Homo sapiens: one gene and its partners. The protein of the gene in region 1 interacts with the protein of each later gene in a pairwise test. Each region holds a gene or a part of one and is shown on either strand. Other genes may lie near its edges.

What was found.
Region 2: the proteins of NCS1 (region 1) and SPRED2 interact in binary tests that used the Homo sapiens proteins (3 or more experiments, as listed by UniProt).
Region 3: the proteins of NCS1 (region 1) and SFTPA2 interact in binary tests that used the Homo sapiens proteins (3 or more experiments, as listed by UniProt).

What each region holds. Positions count from the first base shown.
Region 1 is NC_000009.12:130,224,269-130,227,913, forward strand, and holds part of NCS1 (neuronal calcium sensor 1), read left to right. Parts: intron 1-2,120; coding exon 2,121-2,219; 3' UTR 2,220-2,236; intron 2,237-3,645. UniProt on the Homo sapiens protein: Neuronal calcium sensor, regulator of G protein-coupled receptor phosphorylation in a calcium dependent manner. Directly regulates GRK1 (RHOK), but not GRK2 to GRK5. Can substitute for calmodulin. Stimulates PI4KB kinase activity.
Region 2 is NC_000002.12:65,310,542-65,314,186, reverse strand, and holds the end of SPRED2 (sprouty-related, EVH1 domain-containing protein 2), read left to right. Parts: intron 1-17; coding exon 18-686; 3' UTR 687-3,336; downstream 3,337-3,645. UniProt on the Homo sapiens protein: Negatively regulates Ras signaling pathways and downstream activation of MAP kinases. Recruits and translocates NF1 to the cell membrane, thereby enabling NF1-dependent hydrolysis of active GTP-bound Ras to inactive GDP-bound Ras.
Region 3 is NC_000010.11:79,557,532-79,561,891, reverse strand, and holds the start of SFTPA2 (pulmonary surfactant-associated protein A2 isoform 1 precursor), read left to right. Parts: upstream 1-1,484; 5' UTR 1,485-1,528; exon of another isoform or gene 1,529-1,621; intron 1,622-1,893; 5' UTR 1,894-1,923; exon of another isoform or gene 1,924-1,935; coding exon of another isoform or gene 1,936-1,963; intron 1,964-2,020; exon of another isoform or gene 2,021-2,202; coding exon of another isoform or gene 2,203-2,224; intron 2,225-2,382; coding exon of another isoform or gene 2,383-2,408; coding exon 2,409-2,580; intron 2,581-2,886; coding exon 2,887-3,006; intron 3,007-3,762; coding exon 3,763-3,840; intron 3,841-4,306; coding exon 4,307-4,360. UniProt on the Homo sapiens protein: In presence of calcium ions, it binds to surfactant phospholipids and contributes to lower the surface tension at the air-liquid interface in the alveoli of the mammalian lung and is essential for normal respiration.

The DNA of each region.
Region 1 (3,645 bases):
ACATGGTGAATCCCTTTCTCTACTAAAAAAAAAAAAAAAAAAAAATCCGGGAGGCAGCAGTTGCAGTGAGTGGAGATCGCGCCATTGCACTCCAGCCTGGGCAACAGAGTGAGACGCAGTCTCAAAAAAAAAAAAAAAAATTATCCAGGCATGATGGCACATGCCTGTAATCCCAGCTACTCGGGAGGCTGAGGGAGGAGAATTGCTTGAACCTGGGAGGCAGAGGTTGCAGTGAGCCGAGATCACACCACTGCACTCCAGCCTGGGCAATAAGAGTGAGACTGTCTCAAAAGAAAAAAAATAAAATAAAAGGAACCATAGACACTGGAGCCTACTTGAGGGTGGAGGGTGAGAGGAGGGTGAGGATCGAAACCCACCTATTATCAGGTACTATGCTTATCACCTGAGTGACAAAATAGTCTGTACAGCAAACCCCCACAACACAGGATTTACCTATATAACAAACCTGCACATGTATCCTTGAGCCTAAAATAAAAGCCTAAAAAAAGGGACTCCAAAGAAATAAGGAATCCTTCTTTAAATCAAACTTACTTAAAACTAAAATAACTTAAATGTAAATTTGAAATAATGACGTTAGGGAAATCCAGGTGTTACGTGCCTTCAGCAAAATAACATAAAATGGTCAGGTGCGGTGGCTCACACCTGTCATCCCAGCACTTTGGGAGGCCAAGGCGAGTGGATCACTTGAGCTCAGGAGTTTGAGACCAGCCTGGGCAACGTGATGAAACCCCGACTCTACAAAAAATACAAAAATTAGCCGGGTGTGGTGGTGTGCACCTGTGGTCCCAGCTACTCGGGAGGCTGAAGTGGGAGGATGGCTGGAGCCTGAGAAACCAAGTCTGCTGTGAGCCGTGATGGTGCCATTGCACTCCAGCCTGGGTGACAGAGTGAGACCCTGTCTCAATCAATCAATCGATCAGTCAATCATAGAAATTCCTGTAACGCAGGGCTGCTTATTAGATTCTGGCTGGAGACAGCTGTTTGCCCTAAAAGCTTTGACCTGAGGCCTGTACTTTCTTAATTAAAAAAGGGAGATTAGCCCATGTTAGAGGAGTGGTAGAGACGTGCTGGCCTCAGACCCAGCTGGCGTCTTGGTAATGATCAAAAGATTTATCGACAGAGTGTGGAGCACGGAATAATAAGTTTCTCGTGGTGTGCGTCCACGTGGCTTAAGGCCAAGGCCGCACATTCCTTACTGTCCCCCTGTCTGCACTTCCGTCATTTTGGGAAACAGCACAGACCCTGTAGTCACACTGACTGGGGTGTGAATCTGACTTCTCCGTTTCCCAGCCCTGGGGCCTGGGTAGGTGACGGAGCCTCAGCTTCCTCACTGGTAAAATGGGGATGAGAGCAGCACCCCCTTCTTGGCTTGGCCGTGAGGGTTCCATACACTGAGGGTTGCGCCGAGCTTGGCATATGTCGTGTACGCAGCGAGCGATCCCTGAGCACAGCTCGGTTGTGCTCATCGGCGCTGTTTTCGGCACTTACCCTCTCTGGATACCCGAGATCGAGTAGGTGCTCTCCGTGGCCTTTTCCTTGTGGTCCGCCGGCTTCCTTGAGAGATGCTCCGGGGAAGGGATTCTGGCCCAAACATCCCCTCCCCGAGAGACCCACTAAAATTCCTCTTTCTGAGCCATGTCCAGCCCCCTGCCGGGTCTCCCAGGGTCCAGTGTGGGCTGCTCCAGGAGCAGTTTAAATGCCCTTCCAAGAGTGACCCCAGAGAACTGCACGAGGCTCTCAGCCTTGTCAGTTACTCACATTGATGGGGTTTAATAGCATTAACCATGACACGTGTGGAGTTACAGGGCACTTCCAGTTGGTCAAGCACAGAGCTGTCACCCGAGTGCCTGGAGGAAGCCAGGTAATTACCCTCCATCCCCAGGTGAAGAAACATGCCCAGAGAGGTGGGCCACGGCCCAAGGCCACCCTGCCATGAGTGCCGAGGTCTGTCTGGTGCTGGCTGCTTGTAGGCCCTGAGCCACGTTGCCTCCCTCCTGATCTAACCTTGGAAGGGCTCTTGGGACCGGCCCTGGGCTGGGCTTGTCTAGAGCCCTCTCCTGGGAGGCCCTGCACCCTCAGCCGCCTCTCTCTGCTCACAGAATGCCGACGGGAAGCTGACCCTGCAGGAGTTCCAGGAGGGTTCCAAGGCAGACCCGTCCATTGTGCAGGCGCTGTCCCTCTACGACGGGCTGGTATAGTCCCAGGCTGGAGCTGGGTGAGTGCAGACTCGGGGCCTGGGGTGGGTCTGGGATGGGTCAGGGGTGAAAACCCAGCAGCAGGACACCTACGGTTGGCAGGTAATTACCTGGGTCTCTGGGGGTGTTGTGGTCAGCCTAGCAGGGACATAGCTGGGAGGAGGAGGCTGGAAGGGGGGCCTTCAAATTGGTCAGAGCTCCTCTGTTTTGATCATTTTTATAGACCCAGATCAGCCTGCGAGTTTGCTTGAACAGAATTTTTCTGGGCGCGGTGGCTCACGCCTGTAATCCCAGCACTTTGGGAAGCTGAAGCAGGCGGATCACCAGGTCAGGAGTTCAAGACCAGCCTGACCAACATGGTGAAACCCCGTCTCTACTAAAAATACAAAAATCAGGCGGGCGTGGTGGTGCGCACCTAGTCTCAGCTACTTGGGAGGCTGAGGCAGGAGAACCGCTTGAACCCAGGAGGTGGAGATTGCAGTGAGCCGAGATCGTGCCACTGCACTCCAGCCTGGGTAACAGAGTGAGACTCCATCTCAAAAAAAAAAAAAAAAAGAAAAGAAAAAAAAAAAAAGAAAAGAATTGTCCTGGGTGGAAGACACTTTGAAAATTAGTTCCCAACCAGGGCCAGGGACCTGGGAGAGCAATTTCTTATCCCCTCTCTGAGCAGCCGGTTGAAGACCTAACTAAGCTCCTAGCTGTCACAGAATGATAGCACGCCTGGCAGAGGCCCCTGTTGCTGGTAGAGAGCTGTCTCCCTTCTTTCCTTCTCCTCTCCTCCCTTCTCCCCTTTTTTCCTGCCTCTTCTTTGTGGAGTGTTCAATGTAGTCTGCGGGGAGTGGGTGTGAATAACGTCCAAGGTATTGTCCAGAGATCAGCGTTCTTGTCCACGTCCTGGTGAACCAGTGGATGCCTGCTGTTGGTGTATATGTAAGGGTAGAATTGCTGGGACATAGGATATGTGTAATATTTAGCTTTGGTAGTTACTAGAAAACAGTTTCCAAAGTGGTTGTGCTGTTTTGCGGTCCCACTAGTAGTGTATGAGAGTTCCAGTTGCTCCACATCCTTGCCAACACTGGGTATTTTCTGTCTTTTCAAATTTTAGCCATTTTTGTGAGTATGGAGTAATAACTTGTTCTAAGTTTACTTTGCATTTCTCTGATAAGCAGTGACGTTGAATGCCTTGTTATAAGTGTATCACCCATTTTAATGTGCTCATTTGTGATGTGCTAGGTTAGTTATCCATTGCTACATATTACATTACCACAAACAGCAGCTTAAGAACAAACATTAGGAATTTGGCACAGTTAAGCTGGGTGCCTCTGGCTCAAGGACTCTCAGGAGTATGCAGTTCAGCTGTCAATAGGGTTTGCCCAGGTCTATCCTGGATTTAGCAGTGCAAGTTCCCTGTTCTAGGAAACTTCTCAGT
Region 2 (3,645 bases), on another chromosome or scaffold:
CCTCTCCTACGGGACAGCCGATGCCAAGGCCCTACCGCCAGGTGAGCTTCCCGGACGACGACGAGGAGATCGTGCGCATCAACCCCCGGGAGAAGATCTGGATGACGGGGTACGAGGATTACCGGCACGCACCCGTCAGGGGCAAGTACCCGGACCCCTCGGAGGACGCGGACTCCTCCTACGTGCGCTTCGCCAAGGGCGAGGTCCCCAAGCATGACTACAACTACCCCTACGTGGACTCCTCAGACTTTGGCCTAGGCGAGGACCCCAAAGGCCGCGGGGGCAGCGTGATCAAGACGCAGCCCTCCCGGGGCAAGTCGCGGCGGCGGAAGGAGGACGGAGAGCGCTCGCGGTGCGTGTACTGCAGGGACATGTTCAACCACGAGGAGAACCGCCGGGGCCACTGCCAGGACGCGCCCGACTCCGTGAGAACTTGCATCCGCCGGGTGAGCTGCATGTGGTGCGCGGACAGCATGCTCTATCACTGTATGTCGGACCCCGAGGGAGACTATACAGACCCTTGCTCGTGCGATACTAGCGACGAGAAGTTTTGCCTCCGGTGGATGGCTCTTATTGCCTTGTCTTTCCTGGCCCCCTGTATGTGCTGTTACCTGCCCCTTCGGGCCTGCTACCACTGCGGAGTGATGTGCAGGTGCTGTGGCGGGAAGCACAAAGCGGCCGCGTGACTCAGTTTCCCTCCCTTCTCCCTCCATCCGCAGCCACAGGGGAACTCGTCTCTTACATACTCTCATCTTCTCCCCCGCTCCCTTCCACTCCAAGGAGCGAGGAGGGCAAGCGGCCTCCCAGCTCCCTGGTACCTCGAGGCACCATTCCAGCCAGGGACGCTGCCGGGTAGACTCTCCACTCCCCCTGCCGCCCACACTGCAGCAGCCACATCCATACACACACGCTCGCACAGTGTTCTGAGGAAGGAACCTTCGCCACAGACTCCTGTACTATTAACAATCTGTAACCAAGCTAACTGTCTCATCCATGTGTTGATTTCCTGTTTCCTCCTCCCCCGCCTCTTCCAGTTCAAAGGAGTCTGCAATTGGAACTGCTGATTTTCGGTGGGTTTTGTAGTTGATTTTTCCAAGAGCGTCGAAGACTCTCTTTCTCTTGGTTCACCTTGCCTGTCGCTAGCAAGCATCTGGTTCAGCGGAAATGGGATGTGAGAATGATGAAACCCGACAGAAGTATCTCAGCCTGCAGTCAGTTATTATGTATAGGAGGTGAGCTAGTTAACAAACTTGTACCACAAAACAATATCGCTTTAACTTTTCTAAAGCCAAATTTCCCATGTAAGCTGCAGTTTCTATCTTTAGCCCATCATCATTTTCTGCCCCCCCAAAATCTGTTGAAATGATTCACTGATGCAAAACATTCACCCGTAATAGACTGAGAATTGAGCCTTAACTTCAGATTAACTTGTGAGAATCAGGAAAATTCCTTCAACTGCATTGCATCCTCTTGGACCAGGGCTAGAATGGGGATTTCAGGTTTCTATGAGCCTCCCCATTACCCCTAAAGTAGAACATTTTTTAAATTGTGTTGCCACCACTTCTAAAAATTTAGCAATATTAGAATAGGATACTAGTGAAGTAAGAAATTTTGCTTGTTGTTTTGCAAACCAAATAGTTTCCTCAAACACAAATCAGTGTTCCCACGAACAAGTTCCAGTTGAGAAACACTAAGGTTATGGTGAATAAAACCATAGGGAGCTTCTTCCCCCCAACCCCTGGCTATTTTATATTAATGGGGAGAGGGGATTTTTAAATGTCATAAATTTGAAGAGTGGTGGGTTGCATTTTCTTCATGGGTTTATGTTTTCGTTTCATTTTGGACTCAATTTCACATCACCAAATTCCTCATTTATACTTGGGGAAAAAACAAGGCCATATGTAAAAACCCTTCCAATGCCTAAGTGTCTTTCTCCTGCAACTCCAAACCCAGACTCGCCACTTTGGGTGCACAGGTGGTTAGGTCAGCCAACTGGTTCTGCCTGTCGCCTTGCCACGGAGGAGGCTTCTAATTAGCTGGAAAAGAGTATTTTTCTAATACGTTGCAAGGATTAGCCAAATCTTCTTATTGAAGAAAGAAGAAAAGTGAAGAGTGGTTACCTATACCTAGCATAGTACAATCAGAACCTCGTGGAGACCACCGGGGACAGGCTTGCGGACGCCGGCTGTTCTTCCCGCCACGATCTTTCTGTGGTAGCGGCCAGCAGAAGACATGGCCTGCTCCCCACTCCCTTTCCCCACTCCTTCTTTATTGCACACAGGACACCAGTCTTCAAGGAAAGGGACTTTTTTCCAGTCTGCCAATCATATTGGGAAAGTGCTAGCTGTGCTCACCTTCATGGGGCTGTTTCCAGCTCGTCCACAAGCTCATCGATTTTCTTTAGTAGATTACCGGTGTAAATACCCAGTGTGCTTATGAGTCAGTTAGTAGACGTCTTCATTCATTGGAGTAACTGGTTTAGGCTTTCCAGTTTGGAAAAGGAGCAGAGAGCTGTCCATCTGGATTGATGGAAGAAAAGAGAACCTCATCCATGCCTGGAGAACATCTAGAAAACCTTCAGCCAGCCTCCAGTGCTGTCGAGAGACCACCTTCCCCCGACCCGGAGGCACTTCCTTGGGGTCTTTCTCTAGGGTCTCTTCTCTACAAAGCACAACACTAATGTTCGTTTCCTTAGACCTCAGTTCAAGTGCCCCTATTTATTTCAATAAGAACGCACATATCCCAGCTGTTTTTTGTTTGTCACCTCTATTTAGTTGTTACCTGTTTCTCTCTTCTTTCACCCCTTGTCCTTTTCCACCCTTTTAAGAGTTACGCTAGCAGATCTTACTCCACGTATACTTTTTGGTTTGTGAAGGCATCGGTTAAGGGCACAAAGACAGCCATGGGGACATTTATGTAAATACGTCTCTAATTGCCACACTGCAGCTGAACAGTGTGTAGTATTTTCCCAGTCAGCTTTGCCATACTGACGTCAATCATTTGAGAGAAATTATTCAGATTTTATTTTTGTATCTGTGGTAACAAAACATTAACCAAAAGATTTTCTGTCCAGAAGCCTCCCCGACCCCCCAAGCTATTTGCTCACATTAACAAATTAAAGTGCCTGAAGCATAATTCATTCTTTACCTGTATACTAAAAACCCTGTTGTATTGATTTTTTTATAATAAGCCTTTTTACCTCTGTGTAAAAAATATATATACAAGTGTATGATGTACATTTTAGTTCTTAACTTTTTTTTATGGTTTCTAATATGTATGACCAATGTAGCCATTGCTTTAAAATGTACCGTGTAAATATAAACACATCCTATCAGATCGCTGGCTTTGGGGTATTTGTCTGGCAGGAGACGAGGTGATGCTAGAGCGTTGGCAGATCTTGGAGTTCCCGCATACAGGATGGGACAGGGCTTCCTGTGCCGAAGGACATGTGGACACCGGTCTGTTTTTTCAAGGCCCTTTCCTCCTATGGTTATGTCATATTCCCAAGGGGAGACTGCAGCTCCTTGGGCTCGGATGCCTCAGTGAAAGGAAGGCTGCAGGCCACCGCCCAGGAACACCCCCTCTTCCTAGGCCTGGCTTCCCCAACGAGCGCTCCTCAGAGGGAACAGCTGTACTTCCTCTAAG
Region 3 (4,360 bases), on another chromosome or scaffold:
AAGACAGAGGGACTTTGTGGGTTTCAGGACCCTGGAGAAGCGTGACAACCGAATAAGGCACATGGCTCAGAAACGGATCCTTTGCTATAAAGGACACTATTGGGGCATTGTGTACATTTTGCATAGGGCCTGAAGGCTATTTGGAGTTATTGTATCCGTGTTTATTTCTTGATTACGGTTATAATGCAAAAATGCCTTTGCGTGAAAAACACATTAAAGTATTGGGGTGTTGGGGTTTCATGTTGACAACCTACTCTCATAGGTTCAGGGGAAAAAAAAGTCGTACGATACTGGCAATTTTTCTGTAATTTTGATGTTGTTTCAGAATAATAAAATGAAAAATGAAACTGACCAAGGCCACCTGGTTAATAAGTGACAGCTCTGGGTCAAAACTCAGGTGTGCCTTTCCCCTAAAGCCATGCCCTGCCCTGCCAACCACAAGGCCCTGCACATCCAAGTTGGCCTCTGTTCCTGCTCATCACCTGCAAAACAGCCCTGCCTCCCCACAGCCAAGTTGCTGGAGCTTCGCCCCACCTGCCCCCAACCTGCACTGGCCTGACTCCCCCATTCCACACCTGGCCCAGCACCCACCACATGGTGTGGCAGACAGCACTGGGGCAGCTGAAAGACTCCATGCTACAAATTGGCACTGCCCAGCTTCCTGCTCCTGGGAGTGGGGTCCGTTGTCTGAGCTTCCGCTCCCTGGAAGAGCTCCAAACTCCTCAATGGTTTGGGATTTTTCAAACCAATTCCAAATAAGCCAGGGGAGATTTTCCTGTCTGGGTTCCCATCATTACCACCTCCACAGTTGGAGATTCCCTCCTAATCCAGATGCTCAAACCAGGACCCTAACAACTAGGGCTTCATATATCACTGGGACACTTAGCATAATCACCATTGCAGGTTGCCAGACATCACCCAAAGTGATGTTCTACCAAAGACAGAAACTGCAGCTCTCCCATGACCTTCCAGGTGCTGCCCTGACTCCTCCAGCTGAACCTGCTAGGGCAGAGGGAAGTGGAACGTGCAGCATATTTGCCTGCCACTCTGTCCATGTGCCCACCAACTCGGCTGCAGGCTCCAGAGACACTGGCTGGGGGTCCTGGGGCTCAGAGCTGAGCAAGGTTACAGGGCAGACAGGTTGGCCTGGATCAACCTGACCAACCTCAGCTGAAGCAGTGACTTCTTCATTGTCTGAAACTAAACCAGGAACCCAGTGGAGCTCCCTGAGTGCAGAGTGGGTGACCTTAGCCAGTGAGGCATTTCTCTTCTTACAGACCTGGTATTTTTCTTTACCAGGTTCTGTGCTCCCCTCAAGGGTCCTAAGTATTCCTGCAGCCTGAGTGTTCTGCAGGGAAATGTGCTGTGTAAACACTATGCCTATTTCCTGCTTGGAGAACAGGTTTTGTGGTAGAGCTCTCAGGGGTGGGGAAGAAGCCTGGCAGCCCACATGCTATAAATTCTGTTGTCCACCTTTATGCTCTAACTTGGAGGCAGAGACCCAAGCAGCTGGAGGCTCTGTGTGTGGGTGAGTTTAGCCACATCCCCTAGGTGTTCTCCAGCTTGAGGATCGCAGGCAGAGAGGACCAGCCCAGCAGCCACAGGCCTGACCAAGGCCCAGGTTGGGAAGGAGGGCAACTCCCCATTTTCCACTGGGAGGTGTTTCACAGCATGGTCAACATGGATGACCTACAAAGACCCTCATGCTTTGATATCTTCCTTGGCCAGATCCATCCCTACCAGGGACTCAGCAGGGCCTAAGCAGGGGGAGTGGGAGAACAGACCCCAAGAGGAAGGAAGACCTCATCACTGACTGTGAGAGGGTCATCACCCCCCGATGATCACCTTGAAGGGTCCAGGCTGTGGGCCCTATTCATCTCTTTTCATTCTCAGGTCGCTGATTTCTTGGAGCCTGAAAAGAAGGTAACTGGGCATATGAGGGACAGATGGAGTGAGTCAGTGAGTGAGTGACCTCATCCTTCCTTCTAACAGCCTGGGAGGGACAGGGCAGGTTTTCTGCAGAGCATGGAAGATTCAGCTGAAATCAGAGAGGTGAAGCCAGTTTCCCAGGGTAACATAGTGAGGCACTGAAAGAAAGGAGACTGCACTGGAGCCCAGGTCCCTGGGCTCCCCAGAGCTCCTTACTCTTCCTCCTCCTCAGCAGTCTTGAGACCCCACAACCTCCAGCCGGAGGCCTGAAGCATGAGGCCATGCCAGGTGCCAGGTGATGCTTGGAATTTTCCCGGGTGCTTCGGGTCTTCCCAGCACTCTGGTCTCGCCCGCCCTGCCTCTCGGGCTCTGCCCAGCTTCCTGAGTCCTGACAGAGCACAGTGGGGGAGATGTTGGCAGAGGTGGCAGATGGGCTCACGGCCATCCCTCCGGCAGGAGCAGCGACTGGACCCAGAGCCATGTGGCTGTGCCCTCTGGCCCTCACCCTCATCTTGATGGCAGCCTCTGGTGCTGCGTGCGAAGTGAAGGACGTTTGTGTTGGAAGCCCTGGTATCCCCGGCACTCCTGGATCCCACGGCCTGCCAGGCAGGGACGGGAGAGATGGTGTCAAAGGAGACCCTGGCCCTCCAGGTACTGTGCTGCAGACCCCACCCTCAGCTGAGGGACACAGACCCCTTTTCAGGAGGCCCATCTGTCCAGGCCCCTAGGCTGTGGGCCATAGTGAGCTGGGGGCTATAGTAAGCTGGGTGGGACTTCAGTCTGCAGGGGTGGTGGGTTCCTGGGGCCCTTATGATGGCGCATCCTGGAGAGTCTGTCCTCATAGTGCCCACGGAGTGATAGCTGAGCCAGCCCCGGTGATAATGGGCATCGAGTCTCACTAGCTCCAACCAGTTGTGGGTGACAGATCCTACACATCCATGTCTCTTTTCTCTGCAGGCCCCATGGGTCCGCCTGGAGAAACACCATGTCCTCCTGGGAATAATGGGCTGCCTGGAGCCCCTGGTGTCCCTGGAGAGCGTGGAGAGAAGGGGGAGGCTGGCGAGAGAGGCCCTCCAGGTGAGCAGGGCGGGGCAGGTGGGCAGTGGAAACATGGGCACAGCGACCTGAAGTCAGTTACACAGGGGTGATGGGGGTCAGACAAACCCTGCAGGTTCCCCAAGGGCATTTGGCTCAACCTAAGTAAGAGAATATGAATTTGAGGGAGAAAGCCGAGGTGTCTGGGGAGTGTGGTCACAATTCAGAGAAGGGCAGGTGTGGGAAGTCCTCCGTGCCTCATGACCGCTGATGGGGACACACTGAGTCAGGTGTGGGACGAGGGACAGCACTGGGAGGCAGGGGAGGCATGTCCTGGGATGGAGGCCCTGGGGGCAGTCTGAAGGGTGAATGCGGACGAGGCATCCAGGCAGATGGTGTGATCAGGAGCCCCACAGACAGAGGGGAACTTTGAAGCTCAGAGCGGTAAGCAAGTCCATCAGGGCAGTGCAGAGAGCATCATGCTTGCCCTTGGTGGAGGGTGCGGGAGAGGGACTTGCCCCACAGAGGCGGGCAGACAGAACCCCTCGAGGGACAGAGCAGGAAAGAGGACAAGGGGTGGGGGTCTCAGCAGGGGCAAGGCTTCACTAAAGAATAGGGGACCACGGGGTGTGGAGACACACTGGAATCTCGTGGACCCTCTGAGCCTAGGGTCTGGGTGGTGCCTAACAGCAATGAAAGGGCAGAGTTCCAGGATTGCAGATGGCAAAACGCCTGCGTGGCAGCAAGTGGGAGTCTTCACTGGCCTGCCCCTCCTTCTGTGTGGGGCACTCTCCACAGGGCTTCCAGCTCATCTAGATGAGGAGCTCCAAGCCACACTCCACGACTTCAGACATCAAATCCTGCAGACAAGGGGAGGTAAGGGGACCCCCTGGGCCTCACGGGGTAGGAGTTTCCCACAAATTCCCCTCATTCTCAGCACCACCTTCTAGAATAGAGATGACAAACAAGCGTGCACATGCAGGTGTTGGGGAAAGGAATGATGCTTGCTTTTCTGATGTCTTTGAATGGCCAAGAGGAGACAAGCAGACACAATTCACTCCCCATTTCATAAGAAAGCAAGTTCTCTGCCTGTCTTGCTTTCCACTGAATCCTAGGAAATTGCACCATTTCTGGCAATAAGTAATTGTTACTTAGATGAATGAATAAATGGAGGAGAGTCTAAAAGTGAATTTAGAAAACTGCAATTGGAAGAGGAAGAGAAGACACAGAGAGAGGCAGAGATGGAGAGACTGGGGAGAATCTGGTAGCAGAGACCCTAGGTGAGGGAGGTGGCTTAGAGACAAAGTGGTCAGTGGCCTGACCTGGACTCCTCTGCTCTCAGCCCTCAGTCTGCAGGGCTCCATAATGACAGTAGGAGAGAAGGTCTTCTCCAGCA